Regions from separate parts of the Homo sapiens genome. Here region 1 is linked to region 2. A link means that fine-mapping ties the variant in region 2 to the expression of a gene that starts in the linked region. Tissue or cell type: whole blood. Region 2 holds a variant in brackets; the other region holds the start of a gene. All regions are shown on one strand. Distances are between the middles of the regions.

Region 1 (7,864 bases), 300 kb before region 2:
CAAGCTACTTGACCCTTTTGATCCCCAGTTTTCTTATCTGTGAAGTGGAGATCAGAATACTGCAGAGAGGATTATCTGGTACATAGAAAGCAGTTATCAAAGAGATAGTTCTTTTCCCCCCACTATGACTTCCTGGTAGTATATGGAAAGTCTTAATATTCTCACTGGTTTTTTCTCAGGCCCAGGGTTCTGGACTTCCCTGGCTGGAAGGACTATATTGACATATCTAGTCTTTTAGTCTGGTCTAGGTATTTTCAGGACTGCTAGAACTTGCTTAGTTCTTATTGGTTGTATTTCAGTCTAATTCTAGATTTCAAGTCATTCCAATTAATAAGTGCCCTTCTTCTGAGATTTGTAGCTGCTTGGTGTGGATCTGTTCTGATTTCTGCTCTAAAATGGAATTCTAGGATCCTTGAGGATGAGAAGTTCTACCATGCAGACAGTGACAGAACCATTTTTCTTTATCAGATTGATTATTTTATTTAGTCACAGGACTGCAAAAGTCCTCTGTCCATAAATATTTATTGAGCACTTACTCTGTTCCAGACATAGTTCTGGGAGCTGGAGATACAGCAATGAATAAAATCGCAAGGTCTTTAGGCACATGGAGATGGCATTCTACATTTCAGTGAAGCAGAGATAGGGGGAAAGTAAAACAGAATATGTAAGTAAACAATTCCACGGAAAAGACAGTTTGTTCACAGTGATAAAATCCTGTGAGAAGACAAAACACAATATGACTGACATGTACTGAGGCTTGTAGGGGCAACTTGAGATTTGTAGTTAGAGAGTCCTTTCTGACGTAGTAACATTTGAATTTCCTGCTCGTTACTATTATTCATATCTTACCTTCCTACCCCTGCTCACCCCCAAATTCCAATCTGCCAATCTAGCAATTGTCACCATGACTTGGTAAAAGGTTGGGAGGCAAGAATTGTAGGTGACAGCTATTTGGAAAGAGGGACTGTTAATGCAGGGGTAGGAATGTGCCCATGGCTGCTGACTTAACTGAAACTAGCTAGTCTCTTTCAGTTTTTGAAGTGGGTCCACAAAGCAGAATCTGCTCCTGGCTAGGAGCAAGTACATAGGAGGGGTTTTTTTTTTTTCAATTGCAAACATGAGTATCAGGAAAAGCCTTCTGAGCTTATGCTGGAACACAACAATATAAACGACTTGCTAGATTAGGGTCCAACTAGTTTATCAAAGCAGAGTAATTTAGACAACAATCTTTACGGATAGAGGCTCAGAGCAAAGGAATCAGAGGGGTGTGTGTGTGTGTGTGTGTGCACTTTCACATGAGGGTGAGAGGGAAGGATGCCAAGGAAGAGAAAAGAGTCCAACTAGACATTGTCTAGTTGAAAGATACAACATTTTGCAAGTTATATGCTGTACTTTCTGGCCTCTGTTTTTTTTTAAATCACTGACCTTGAATGTTTGTTAATAAAGTGATGCTAATTTTAAAATTTGTAAAAATAAATTATTATCATAATGGTACACAAATCTGTAGGATGAGGAACTTATAAATGACATTAATATCCTATAACAAGATAATGAGTGAGATAAAGGCAGTTTTACATTTTTCAGAGGACAACCGAAGAATGGGACTTTTATTAGAGTAACAAAGAAAAATGAAGCACTGACAACTGTAAATGACAGAAGTCAAATGTAATAATAGTTGAATATCAAAGAAAAAAATGATAGCCTAAAATAAGATATATTTCTGAGGATAGCAATTAAAAATATTTCCTATATAGCATAGACAGGAATTCCCTGAACTAAAGGAGATGGAAGACATGTATGGTTGTTTTAAGTCTGGGTACACTTTATTTTCTTCCTCTAGTCTGTGCGTTGTAAAGGCATACCTGTTGAAAAGGAAACTTTTGTTGGGTTACCCCTCCTGTCTTTTAAAGATGAGGGGGAAAAAGAAGCCTTTGCTGTTATGGATGCAGTTCTCAGAATCTCACTAGAGGGTGGTGTTGGTTCTAAAACCAGAGGTCACTGCTACTCTCTACAGTACATTCATTACTAGGCTGCATTTATGTTTAAAGAAAAGGCAAAGTCAAGCCTTCTCAGTATTCCCTAGTAGTTGATAAATGTCAAATCTGAAACCTCCCAAGTGCCCCTGCCAGTTCTGGCTGGTTGTAGCCCAGAGGAGACAGATAAAGTAGTGAAGAGATTATCGGAGGAGTTGGGTGGCTGATTCTAATTTTGGCTCCTGCACTAACTAGTAGACAAGACTCCCTGGGCCTTTGTCTCAACCGTAAAACAAAAATGATGTCCTAGTTGATCCCTAAATCCCCATATATCTCTAAAATTATGAGATTCAAACCAAATTGTTGGTCTAAAATGCTGAATAATTTCTCATGCTGTTAGCCAGACTAAGGAACAAGTAAAATCTCAAATTATTAAATTATTAATAAGATAAAATGTAATGTTATAAGTGAGGTTTAATATAGATTCTAATATCAAAGGAGTTTAAAATTAAAATGCCAAGTCTTTTGTCTTACCAGGGAGCCTTAGGACCATGGTTTGCATCTGAGCATTCTGTGGATAATTTCAGTGACTTAACTCATCATCCAAAGATCTCTCCCTTCTTGGTTGCTAGCTTACTGGAAATGAGCAAAATATGTTTTTATATAGGATTATATAGAGAAAGGAGGCTGAACCATTGTCAAATAGGAATGTTTTAGGATAGAGACTAAACTCCCCACCTGCATTTATCTGACTTGGATTATATCTGTGCTTTTTAAGAGTCAGTCTTCGGAGGGATTTAGTTGGTTCAGTTTCCTTTCACCCTCATCTCTTTCACTGACTCCCTTTCCTTGTTATATTTACTCACACTGCAGAATGACCTTAGAATCCTTTCCTGGAACCTGAAGCAAATTATGGAACCCCAAGATCCCAGTAAACCCTAGTTTATCTCTGCATGGACTTGACTTCTAAGAATTGGCCTGAGAGCCTGCAATTAACCTGTGACCACGCAAAGCTTCACCCCGTCACCCCAAACGCTTAGACATTCATACTCAATACCCACTTTCCTCCAAATTGCTTTGTTTGGCAGAAGAAGGTTTCTTTCTCCCCTCTCCTTCACCCAACCTGGATTTTTGTTGCATCTCAGGCTCATTTCGCAAATCTAAACTTCCTAAAATATACACGGAGCGCCTCCGGGTTTGCACACGCGCGCGCGCGGGTACACCCTGGCTCGAGTACATTAGCCCCGCTGGGCCGGCTCCCAGTTGCAGAACACATTCCATTCTTCGCGCTCGGGCACACCCCTCCGCAGTGAGGATTGGTCGGGCCGAGCCCCCTCGGCGAGGCGAGGCTCCTAAGAGGCCCAGACGCCTGCCAATCCCCAAGGGCTGTCAAAACAAGTCTCCCTCCCTGTCACAACAGAGCTGAGTGGAGGCCGCCGCCGCCGCCGCACTTCCTGGGACCGCTGCGCCGCAGTCCGCGGGCAGGTGGCGGGTGCGCCCGGCCGCAGTCGCCCGGCTCTGGCCCCTATCGGGCCGCCGGCGTCCGGGCTCCAGAGGCCGCCTGGCTGGGCGCCCGGTGCCTTTTGTCTGGCGCAGGGCCGGCGTTTGCATCACATTTCGGATACCTCCCTCTCTTTTTCGCCTCTCCTTCTGCCTCCCGCTCACATCGCCTCCCCACTCCCGCCACCGTCCCCCGCCGGACTGCTAGCCTCCTAGACCGAAGCCCGAGGACGTCTCTGCCCGAGCGATGTCCCCTCTCCAGAAAGTTGCCGCCGCCGCCGCCGCCGCCGCCACTGCCGCCGCTGGGCGGTGAAACAAAGTCTGGCGGGGCCGCCTCCCGGTGCAGGAGCGCACCGGTGCCTAGCGGCTGGACTCCGCTGCCGGGCGTCCCGCTTTCCCCCGGGGAGCCCTAAACGCTCCAGGCCATGGCCGAGGGCGCGGCCGGCAGGGAGGATCCGGCGCCGCCCGACGCGGCGGGGGGCGAAGACGACCCCCGAGTGGGCCCGGATGCCGCCGGGGACTGCGTGACGGCGGCCTCTGGGGGCCGGATGAGGGACCGTCGCAGCGGGGTCGCACTGCCAGGCGCCGCGGGGACCCCAGCGGACAGCGAGGCGGGCCTCCTGGAGGCAGCACGGGCGACCCCCCGGCGCAGCAGCATCATCAAGGTAAGCAAAGCCGCGCCGCACCGGGAGCGTGGCTGTGGGTGATGGGTGGGTCAGGGACCCGGGCAGGATGTGCGGTGTCCGGAGGCATCCGGGCTCAGCATTGTTTTCTCCCACCTCCTTCAACGCCAAACCTTCCTTCCTTATCCGGAGGTTCCCAGACTCAGCTGTCAGCCACGAGACGCACAAGTGACTTTTTCTCCCCACTGACGGCAGAGGAAAAGTTCCGCTCTGCGTCTTTGCGTTCTGATGGATGCTTTCCCTCATTTTCTCTGCAAGCTTCACTAAACCGTTGATGGAGGGAGGAAGGGAGAACTCTGGATAAATGCAGACCCACCGGATGGTTGTGCATTGCTTTCCAATGAAGGGTTAGCTTTTCCCATACAATGAAGAAAATGCACAGCTTACTCTCAAGTGTAAAAAAAGAATCCCTCTAGACTTAAATGATCCCGAAATCCCAAGATGTGTGAACTTTCCCGGTAGGGAGGCAGAGTTTTAAGTGGACCCTGCATCACAGTAAAGAGCAATGCAAGAGCCCAGAGTTTTTGCGCTGCAGAAAGCACAACCGGAAAGCAATCAATCCCCCAAGCATTATCACTGGTCCTTGTGGTTACCACCACATCCAGGGAAAACGCTTCCTGACCCGCTAATCACCTCACAGAATTTCTCTCCATCCATTTGGCAAGGAATTTGTAAACCTCTTTCCTCCCCTTTCTCTTTCCATCTTCCTTCCACTTGGGGCTTGTTTCTTCTGTTCGAGATTTCCTCTTTTGGGAGCATGACTTTGGGGTAAGGTTATTTAGGAAAGAACCCTCGCACAGGCTCTGGAAAAGGGCCTCAGTGTAAATGCATGTGAGTAATCAATCAAATGTATGTCAGATTAAAATTGATTTTGGTGGAGCAGTCAGTATAAAACGATATGTATGTATGTATATATGTAAGTATATATGTGTGTGTGTACATACACACACACACATCCCTCAATGACAATGAAAGATGGACTTTTACTTACTATTGAATTTATTGGGTTCACTAATATATTCAAAAGCTCTGTTCAGGGTTAAGCTGCGTAACCAGTGCATCACGCATGTTGCAAGCTCCCAGCACCAGCTTAGGTAGACTAACCACAGAATGTGGCTCCAGTAAAGTCTTTTTCCCAACACTGACACATGGAAGTTTAAAATCAGTGGAGAGGTTTCTATAATATATAAAGAAGAGTGGGTGGTAATTACAAATGGCTTGTAGTAGTTTCTGTTATTTTGTGGCTTTTTGATTATGTAACAGGAGTGTTCTATTCTGGGTGTGAATTTGGACAAAGGGAAATTACTATTTTGTTTTTAACCCACAGGTCAGAAAGCACACTGTTTTCAAACTTAAAAAACATCACAATTAGGAAACACATACATTTTGGATTCTACTGTATTGATACTACATGGTGTCCTGTGTGTGTAAAACAGGCACTGCAAGAGACTTTAAAATATATGACAATAAAGAGCAAACGGCTCTATAATGTTGTAAAAAACAAAAGTAATGGAGTATAAGGAATATACAAATTCTTGCAACTGAGTTTGCCACTTGTGAATTGTACTATGCTGGTTTATATTCTCAGAAGGGTCATTGCTGAGTAATGGTGCCTCTTTTGTTTTGAAGTTTCTTTTTGTGACAAAAAAGGAGGGAGACAACAGAATATTAACTTGATTTTTCCCCTATTTAATAGTAAATGCAATTAACATTTGGTAAATGGCCTTTAAAATTAAAGATATTAGAAAATAAAGTGAATTATTATGTTAGGTTTTTATTGGAAAAGTAGCACATACATATAATTTAAAAAATCAAATGTTGCAAAGGAGTGTGAAGGAAAGACCCTCAGACACTCCACATTCCCACTTATGTAGTCCACCCTCATAGATGTTAACACTTTCTTATGTATGCTTCCAAAATATTCCATGCATGTGTAAGCAGATATATCTATATGTGTCTATGATGAACTATAGCAGCTCCTGATTTCTACAAAAAAATCTGGCTAGAGTTTTACAAGTCTCATAGTTTTAAGCATTTTTGAAGCCTAGAGGGGGTAATCTGGTAGGTCTTTGGTGGGCAGCAGTCATTGGGGTCTGTTCCCAGAGGCCTTAACGCCCTTCTAAGGAGAAAAAAAGGCAGGTGGTAAGCTCTGTTCCACTCCGTCTCTGAGATCAAGAACCTTTCTGGTGACATTCTTGAATCTGCTGCCCTGTGGTTTGTTCCCTTTAGCATAGTAAAAATGAGTTTCCAAAAAAAGTTTAGATCATATAAGAAATACATAGCACATGTTCTATATTGAGAGAAAATGCATTTTTCACAGTTTTGCCAAGAGATTTTTTTTTAAATTTGGCATTGAAATGTACACAAAGAAGAAAAGCTTTAGTACATTTTAATCAAAATATTAAATGCTGTTCCAAATAGCTGTAGTGCAGTAATAATTGATATTCATAATGCTGAGCCACTGAAAGGTTGTGAATCATCAAATATTAAATTCTTGTCAGCTCAATTTAAGGTATTGTTTCAGAATAGTGCTATCCTGACAGAAAACAGACTGTCTTGTATATTAATAAAAAGAATGTTTTTAGTAAATTTGCCCTCCATAATTTGTGAAAACATGTGTTTAGTTGAAAAAACAATTTTCTTCTGAGCTGAGGAAAACAATGACAACATTTATCTGTATGCATCTTCAGAAATTCTTTCTACTGACATTGTGTTTCTTCCCCACATATAACCAATCCTAGGTTTAAAAACGTTCAATGTGAGAATTAAACTAAGTTTTTTTAAAATCTGTCTACTTTTTCCTATATTTTTCTGTGTGATTGTTTCAACAGCATTGACATTGATAAATGCTGCATGTTTTTTGGTAAGCGCATTGTTATATACCACAATAATGCAATAGAATCCATTTTAATTTCTTCTTGATGACTTGTGGTTTGAAATGACAAGTTGGATACCTGCAGTATTGATAATCTCTAAAAGTTGTTTACTATTCTGCATTTGAATATATTTCTAATTAAGAAATAAGACCATTTATTTATCTGGTATTTGATATCAAACTTATAGCATTTAAAATATTTAACATTTTAGATTATTGCTTATAGCCCTATAATCTGCTGCCCTGTGGTTTGTTCCCTTTAGCATAGTAAAAATGAGTTTCCAAAAAAAGTCTAGATCATATAAGAAATACATAGCAAATGTTTTATATTGAGAGAAAATGCATTTTTCACAGTTTTGCCAAGAGTTTTTTTAAATTTGGCATTGAAATGTACACAAAGAAGAAAAGCTTTAGTACATTTTATATTAATCAAAACATTAAATGCTGTTCCAAATAGCTGTAGTGCAGTAATAATTGTAATGTTTTGGAAATAGGAAGCAGCATAGCTTATTTACTATATTAGTTGGTGGAAACTGAGCTACATGTGTATTTTAAAAATAGCAGTTGATTTTTCTTCCATTGTATGTGACACATTGACGGGTTCTACTTTTTTTCAACTTCCTTTTGTTCTACTTAAGAACAAATTCTCTAGGCAAGGAAGAATAGAAATTGTCACTTGGATCTCATGGACATGGGTGTGGGGGATGAAGATGGGAGTTGGGAATGAGGTGTTGAGACCAGCACTGGAGCAGCTACTTGGGTGTTGTTCATGTCTCATTATTTTATATCATGGCGAGTCTCACTCTCTCATGTCATCTTGGGCTGGTATGGTG
Region 2 (7,864 bases):
GGTCTTATTCATTCTTCCTATTTTTTTGTACCCATAGAATTTACTTTTTTCCTTCTCATGTCATTTTCTATGGCTCCTGGCTGTTTTAAATACAATTTAGCCTAATGCATTGACTGTTGTCAATTTGTGCATAAGGACAGCTACTTGGTGGGATGAACAGAATGAAAAGGATAATTCAATTTAGGGATTTGGAAATTATGAGAAGACAGGAATGTGAAATTATATTTTACTGATAATATTTTCATTATAAGATGCCCATTTTTCTGAGATATATACTCAGATTTCTTATGCATTCTTTCTTCAAAGGGATGGAGTTCCATGAAGAACTTCATAATTTGGGGGCAAAAGAAGGCTTGAAGGGAAGAAAACTCAACAAAGCAACTGAGAGCTTTGCTTGGAACATTACAGTATTGAAGGTAGATGAAACACTCAGATGTCCCCTGTGCCTTTACTTTTCTTCTCCTCATCTCTCCAATGTGTAGAGAAATGTAAAGGATTAAATATGATGGTTTGGATTTTTAAACCTTCACTTTAGATTCAGGGTTACATGTGCAGGTTTGTTATATAGGTAAACTGTGTGTCGCGGGGGGCTGGAGTGCAGATTATTTTGTCACCCAAGTAATAAGCACCTAGTATGCAATAGGTAGTTTTTTGACCCTCTCTCTCCTCCCACCCTCCATCCTCATGTAGTCCCTGGTGTCTGCTGTTCCTCTCTTTGTGTCCATGTGGTCTCATTGTTTAGTTCCCACTTATAAGTGAGAATATATAGTATTTGGTTTTCTGTTTCTGCATTAGTTTGCTTAGGATAAAGCCCTCCAGCTCCATCCATGTTGCTGCAAAGGACATGATCTTATTCTTTTTTATGGCTGTGTAGTATTCTGTGGTGTATATGTACCACATTATCTTTATCCAGTCCACTATTGACGGACATGTAGGTTGATTCCATGCTTTGCTATTGTGAATAGTGCTGTGACAAACAGACATGTCCATGTGTCTTTATGGTAGAAGGAATTATATTCCTTTGTGTATATACCCACTAATGGGATTGCTGGGGTCAAATGGTAATTCTGTTTTAAGTTCTTTGAGAAATTGTCACACTGCTTTCCACATGGCTGAATGAATTTACATTCCCACCAGCATTGTATAAACATTCGCTTTTCTCCACAACCTTGCCAGCATGTGTTATTTTCTGACTTTTAGCTATTCTGACTGTGAGATGGTATCTCACTGTGGTTTTGATTTGGATTTCTCTAAGGATTAGTGATGTTGAACACCTTTTTATATGCTTGTTGGCCGCGTATATGTCTTCTTTTGAAAAGTGTCTGTTCACGTCCTTTGCCTGCTTTCTAATGGGGTGTTTATTTTTTTGCTTGTTAAGTTCCTTATAAATTCTGAATGTTAGACCTTTGTTGGATGCATAGTTTGCAAATATCTTCTCCCATTCTGTAGGTTGTCTGTTTGCTGTCTTGATAGTTTCTTTTGCTGTGCAGAAGTTCTTTAATTAGATCCCACTGTCAATTTTTGTTTTTATTGTAATTGCTTTTGGTGTCTTTGTCATGAAATCTTTATTAGGTCCTATGTCCAGAATGGTATTTCCTAGGTTAACTTCCAGAGATTTTATAGTTTTAGGTTTTACATTTAAGTCTTTAATCCATGTTGAGTGATTTTTGTATATGGTACAAGGAAGAGGTCCAATTTCAATCTTCTGCACATGACTAGCTAGTTATTCCAGCACCACTTATTGAATAGGGAGTCCTTTCTCTATTGCTTGTTGTTGTTGACTTTATTGAAGCTGAGATGGTTGTAGGTGTGCAGCATTATTTCTGAGCTCTCTATTCTGTTCCATTGGTCTATATGTCTGTTTTTGTACCAATGCCATGCTGTTTTGATTACTGTAGCCTTGTAGTATCGTTTGAAGTTGGGTCAAGTGATGGCTTCAGGAATGTGTGGCTTGATCTCTAGGTTCATACTCTAGGAGATGGGGAGCTGCATACTGGAATTAACATGGTTTTTGCCTTAATAAGGCAATGAGGTTTTCGGTGCAGGCAGGGTACAGCCCATGTGTGAGATTAATTTGCCTGGTGTGTGTGTGTGTGTGTGTGTGTGTGTGTGTGTGTGTTTACTCACATGAATACTTACGTTCAAGTCAATATGGCTGTTCTTGTTTGTGGAAAGAATAATGACAAATGCTTCTGGGGAAGATTCCAACACAAATGATTTTGAAGAGACAAAGTACAAAATATCTAGGGCCATTGAGGATTTTTATTTTAAGAACAGTTCCTATAAATACATTTCTTTTTGCAAATAACTTTGGAAGTCATTTTCTTGAGATTATGATTTGCTCTCTGCTGCACATGAATTTTAGAATTTTGAAGTAAATATGCCACTTTTTATATTTTCTTACATGAAAAAAGAAATGATTTAGGCAGACAATATATTCTTGACAGCTAAATGGGAGAAAAATAGCTACAAACAAAATTAATAATTGCTGACATTTAAAGAACACTCATTTTGTGCTAGGTACTGTTTTATGAGGTTTATATGAATTAACAATTTAATACTCACACCAACTCAGTATCGTTATTAATCTCATTTTACAGGTGAGAAAACGGAGGCATTGGAAGTCTGTGTATATTTCCTGAGGGCGCTCAGCTAGTAAATGGTGTAACTAAATTTTAAGCTCAGGCAGTCTGGCTCCAGACCCTGTGTCTTTAACCTGTGCTGCAGAGATGCTGCACATGTTTATGTGAAAGTGTTAGGTTAGCTGTAAGACATATTACAAATGTCTATTAAAAATTCAGTCCACAAGTGATAAGCCCCTACTATGCATTGGGCTCTGTGCTAGGCACTGGGAATACGTGGAGAACATGAGATACAGACCCTGACCTCATGAAGTTAGCAGTCTGAGTCCAGTGGAGGAGGGGGATGGATAAGGCATCATTTGCTTAAGGAGCAGGGATGACCTAGAGCTGTAGTGTTAAAGAGGTGCTTATTATAACCCTAGATTATAATGTGGCAGTGTGTACCCTGATATAAACATTTTATGTTCAGAAGATTTTATATGGGCTTGTTAATGTGCCTGTCACAGAAAGGTGCTAGGGATACAAATATCAGGAGGATTACCTGGGTCTCCAAGACTAGTCTATAAGGAGAGACAGACATGTAACTAATAATGGCCATCAATTGTTCAGCACTTATTTTGTGATCAGCACTCAAGGCTAGGTACTTTATGTACATTTCCCCTTTCTTCCTTGCCACAACAGTGCAATCTTGCAACATGACATGCTGACTCTGATAGGACTCTCTCCATCTCACAAATGAGGAAATTGAGGCTTGTGGGGGTTGAAATTTCTTGCCTGGAGTCACACAGCTAGTAAA[C/T]AGCCAGCCTGCAATTTTTAACTCACGCCCATGGTTCTATCCACTACACTGTTCTGCCTCCTCTAAAACTCCATCCATGTGGCTGAGTCCCTGTATTAGTCTTTTCTCACGCTGCTAATAAAGACGTACCCGAGAGTGGGTAATTAATTTATAAGAGAAAGAGGTTTAATTGTCTCACAATTCAGCATGGCTGGGAGGGCCACAGGAAACTTACAGTCATGGTGCAAGAGGAAGCAAACATGTCCTTTTTCATATGGCAGCAGCAAGGAGAAGTGCTGAGCAAAAGGTGGAAAAGCCCTTTATAAAACCATCAGATCTTGTGAGAACTCACTCACTATTATGAAAACAGCATGAGGATAACCTCCCTTATGATTTGATTACCTCCCACCAGGTCCCTCCTACAACACGTGGGGATTGTGGGAACAACAATTCAAGATGACATTTGGGTCCAAACCATATCAGTCCCATTGGGTCCAGGCAGCCTAGTGCAGGAATAAGAATGCAGGCCCTGTGTGATTACCTGATAGTGGTGAGACTAGCCAAGTTATATAATCTCCCTCAGGGTAGTAATAATACCTACATCTCAGATTTTGTGAGAATTAAATGAGATAATACATACAAAAGATGTAAGTCACAGTGCACAAAACTAGACAGCATATATGTTAGCTGTTATTTGTTTGTTTGCCAGGTGAGGATAAACATGGAGAAATGAGGTTTTTGTTATTTTTATTTCTTTGTTAACTTCTGACTTAAGCCCACTTAGTGTTGTCAGAGATTTCTTAATGTTTTTGTTTGGTTTAGTAACAGAAGCTGATTGTTAGATGTGATTGAGCAAATGCTGTTCAAATTATTCCAAGAGAGAGCTTTTCAGACAGAATTGATTTTCTATTATTATAACTCACATACTAGCTGCTGGTATTTCAGCTTGAGCACTAGAGTAGTGGACTACTACTAAACAAGAGTAGAGAACATTTCCACACTTCCAATAGCTCCTTTTTCTCCTCCATTGAGTTTGGGGCCTGTTAATCTGGTGTCCTTTCCCCAAGAGCTGGACAAATGACCTCCTTTGAATTTGAATTATTAGCTGAGAGAAAAAGAGCCTGGGCTCTGTTGGAGACTTTTTATTCCAGTGGTGCTGCTCTAAGAAGATATCTTTTTCTATACGATTCTTCCTTTAGTTCTTATGCATTAGATCTGAAACACTTGATTCCCAATTAATTCTCCAGACTTGCTATTGATTTTCAGAGCTCCTCTAAGTATTTTAATAAATGCTCTTTGTTTATAAGTTTAGTAGATTCAATTTACCTTGCTTCCAGTTGGTTGAATGATTAATAACCATCCTGGAAAGACATAATCACTGAATTAGGAGGCTGTGGTACAATTCTGCGTTGCCTACTGAAAAAGTTTCCTTATACATGATTTAGACTAGTATTCCCTACTATCTAGAGAGAGGGAGTGGGAATTAACCAATTCTGGTTAAATGTGTTGGTTTGTATTTCTAAAAATATTTAATTCCAGTGTAATTTCCAATAAGTAAGGAAGGAGCTGGAAAAAAATGAGAAATGTGCCCTCAGCAAGTTGGGGGATTGACAGCATGGAGTGGTGCAAAGGGGCATTGGCTTTAGAGTAAATTGAGCTGAGACTGAAAAATAAATTGTTTAGTGTTTTCTGCAGTTCAATATTACATTTATCTGATATTAAAAGCTGGAGAAAAAAATTGCAGAAAGAAAAATGACTAACGACAATATAATGAATAAGAATTATAATTACAGTGTCCAAATTGTTGCAGAGACCAGGACTTAGTATTTAGCAAGGAAACTGAAATCAAGGTGCTTCTGGAAGATCCCACACTTGTGTTTTTCTTTAATTCATATTCTAGCACCTACGTGGGTCCAGTATAGGGACTTGTTTAGCGTATCTTTTGCATTTTTCCATACTTTTGCCATATGTCTATATCCAACTGTAGCAGTCAATTTGCTCTTCCTTTCTTTCTTTTTCACTATTGTACATGAAATTGGTCTCCTTACATAGCCATTGTGTTTATTTAGGATGATAGGATGATTCAGTCCTCACTACCTTTTCAAGACAATCACTGGATCAAAATAACTCCATTCCATTCCACCCTCACATGTTAAAAGACCTTTCCCTCTGTTTCTTCTCCATGATGTCCTTCTTGTGCTGATATAATAAAATACCTGAGACTGGGTAATTTATAAACAACAGAAATTTATTTCTCACAGTTCTTGGGGCTGAGAAATCCAAGATCAAGGCAGGAGTGGATTTAGTGTCTGGTGAGAGCACAGTCTCTTCTTCCAAGATGGTGACTTCTTGCTTCGTCTTTCAGAGGGGAGGAACGGTGTCTCCTCAAATGGCTGAAGGGAAAGAAAGGCAAAAGAAGGTAAAAGGGCCTAGCTAGTTCCCTCCAGCCCTTTTACAGGGCACTAATCACCTCCTAAAGGCCTTACCTCTTGATATTATTGCATTGGGGATTAAGTTCCAACATGAATTTTGGAAGGGACACAAACATTCAAACTATAGACATTTGGTTGTTAACATAATATTAAAATCTCAAAATGGAAATTTTTCCTGTTTTTTAAGGCTTTCAGAAAGGGATACTACAACTTCACTTACGTAGCCAACATATTCTAGTACATTGTTAGTAATTTTGGAAGTGTTTCACTCATGAGAGTTCTGAAGATCTCTTGGGAGCAAGATGTGGAATTACACTATATCACTGATAAAATGCTATTTGCAATGAAGTGGAATTCATCTAAAGTCTTGAACTCTATCCAGAGTGATTTGACTTTTTAAGTACAAAAAGAACTGCATTGTAAAGGTGATCACATCTATAAAACTGAAATTAGAAAGAACCCAAGGGGAGCATTTTAGTGAGCTTTCCCAATATATATTTTTCTAACTTGTCCTGTTGGCTATTTTAAGAAACTAAATTTTATTACTTTGTGTTTTTAAAAGTTTTATGTAAAAATCAATTTTAGCAGGCTGGAGAAGTATCAAGTAGAGATATATAAAAATAATATTAAAGAAATATAATTAATAAATATTTTATTACAAAGGAAAAACTATGAAGTAGGTAATCACTAGAGCTTAAAGAGAAATAAAAGGGTTAAGAAGTAGCTGCCCTTCTTATTTATTCATGACTTTCATTGATTACTTGTTGAATAACAGGCAATAAATAAAAAATGAATATAACTATTACCTCTTCAATGGTCATTCCTATTAAATATGTATTTACACTTTTCCTGGATAGATTTCCAACTTATAATTTAATGCATTCCAATGTGTGCCATGATTCTGGGCTGCTTTTATAAATTTATGTTTAGTATATGTGACTATTACTTTTCCCCATAACGCTTTTGCTTTTTATCACTACTTAAGCCTTTGCTCCTTCTGCTTTTATCTAAAACATTTTCAATTTCCGTGGGAAGAGCAGAGATTGAAGCTTCTCACTTCTCCGTGTGTAGTTATGTTTCTAACCCAGGCAGATTCCCTCACTGAATTCCCGAATTTCAGGACCTTACAGTTCTGGGGAATCTTGCTACAACAGAGGAAATTACATGGATGTCAGTGTAGAAATACGCTTTCAATTAGAGCCTGAAAACACATTTGAAGTCTCTGTTCATTGTTGAGAGACAAAAGAAAGGAAACAGATGATGGGCTAATGGGAAAAGAAGTATGAGGAGAGGCATCCATCTCTGAAAGCTGAGTGAGAGTGAGAAGTGGGCTACCCTTCACTTACTGGCCATAGATATTTAAAATCATTCTATGAGATACTGTGGAGAGGGGGCTGTTAGTGTGAATGTTCAAACCAGGCTCTTCCAACAGACATAGTGACCATGCCTTTGGGGGCTGCCTGAGGGTATATAAAGAAGGAACATGCCCAGTATCATCCACATTGTCTATTGAGAACTTTTCCAGTGGTGTCTCTGGCATCTGCCAGCTGTTGTTGCTGTAGAATCTAGAGAAAGGCTAGGATTCCTTTTGAGTATTCAGAAAAAAAAGTATATTTACAAAGTGTAGAAACAGACCTCCAAACAACAACAATAATGCATTAATAATAAACCATCCTTAATATTGATATTATTATACTATCAATTATTGAGAAACAGCAGGCAAAGTGATTAAGTGTACAGACGCTGCAGCCAGACACTTCCTAGCTCTGTGTCTTTGGGAAAATTTTGTTTTGTCTCTATGCTCTTGTATCAGTTGGGGTATGCTGGGTTGTGCTATAGTAACAAAAATCTGAAAATCTACTACAATATAACACAATGGCTTATTTCTTGCTTGTACTACATGTCCATCACAGGTAAGTAATGGTCACTCAGGAACACAGGCTAATGGGGACTCCATCCCAGCAAATACTTCTACAATCCCAGAGGTAGGGATGCAAAAATGGTCTTTAAAAGCTTCTGCCCAGTAGAGTCACATGTCCCTTCCACTCACATTTGACTGGTCAAAGCAAGCCACA

What was found. PIP is the estimated chance that this variant, and not a neighbour inherited with it, causes the effect.
Region 1: it holds the start of PLCL1, and the variant in region 2 is fine-mapped to the expression of PLCL1 in whole blood (TOPMed, PIP above 0.99).

The regions. Positions count from the first base shown.
Region 1 is chr2:197,801,202-197,809,065 of GRCh38, forward strand. PLCL1 (phospholipase C like 1 (inactive)) reads left to right here and starts at 3,392. Exons shown (of 6, transcript NM_006226.4): 1 at 3,392-4,138. The coding sequence starts at 3,899. It overlaps LOC105373828 (a long non-coding RNA gene), which reads right to left and starts at 3,345. Exons shown (of 4, transcript XR_001739850.3): 1 at 2,508-3,345; 2 at 537-618. RefSeq lists a silencer at 3,439-3,568.
Region 2 is chr2:198,103,521-198,111,384 of GRCh38, forward strand. PLCL1 (phospholipase C like 1 (inactive)) reads left to right here. Exons shown (of 6, transcript NM_006226.4): 5 at 307-416. Among named protein-coding and RNA genes, the nearest start is that of LINC01923, 270 kb to the right of the region's middle. The variant C/T (reference allele first, on the strand shown) is at 3,379.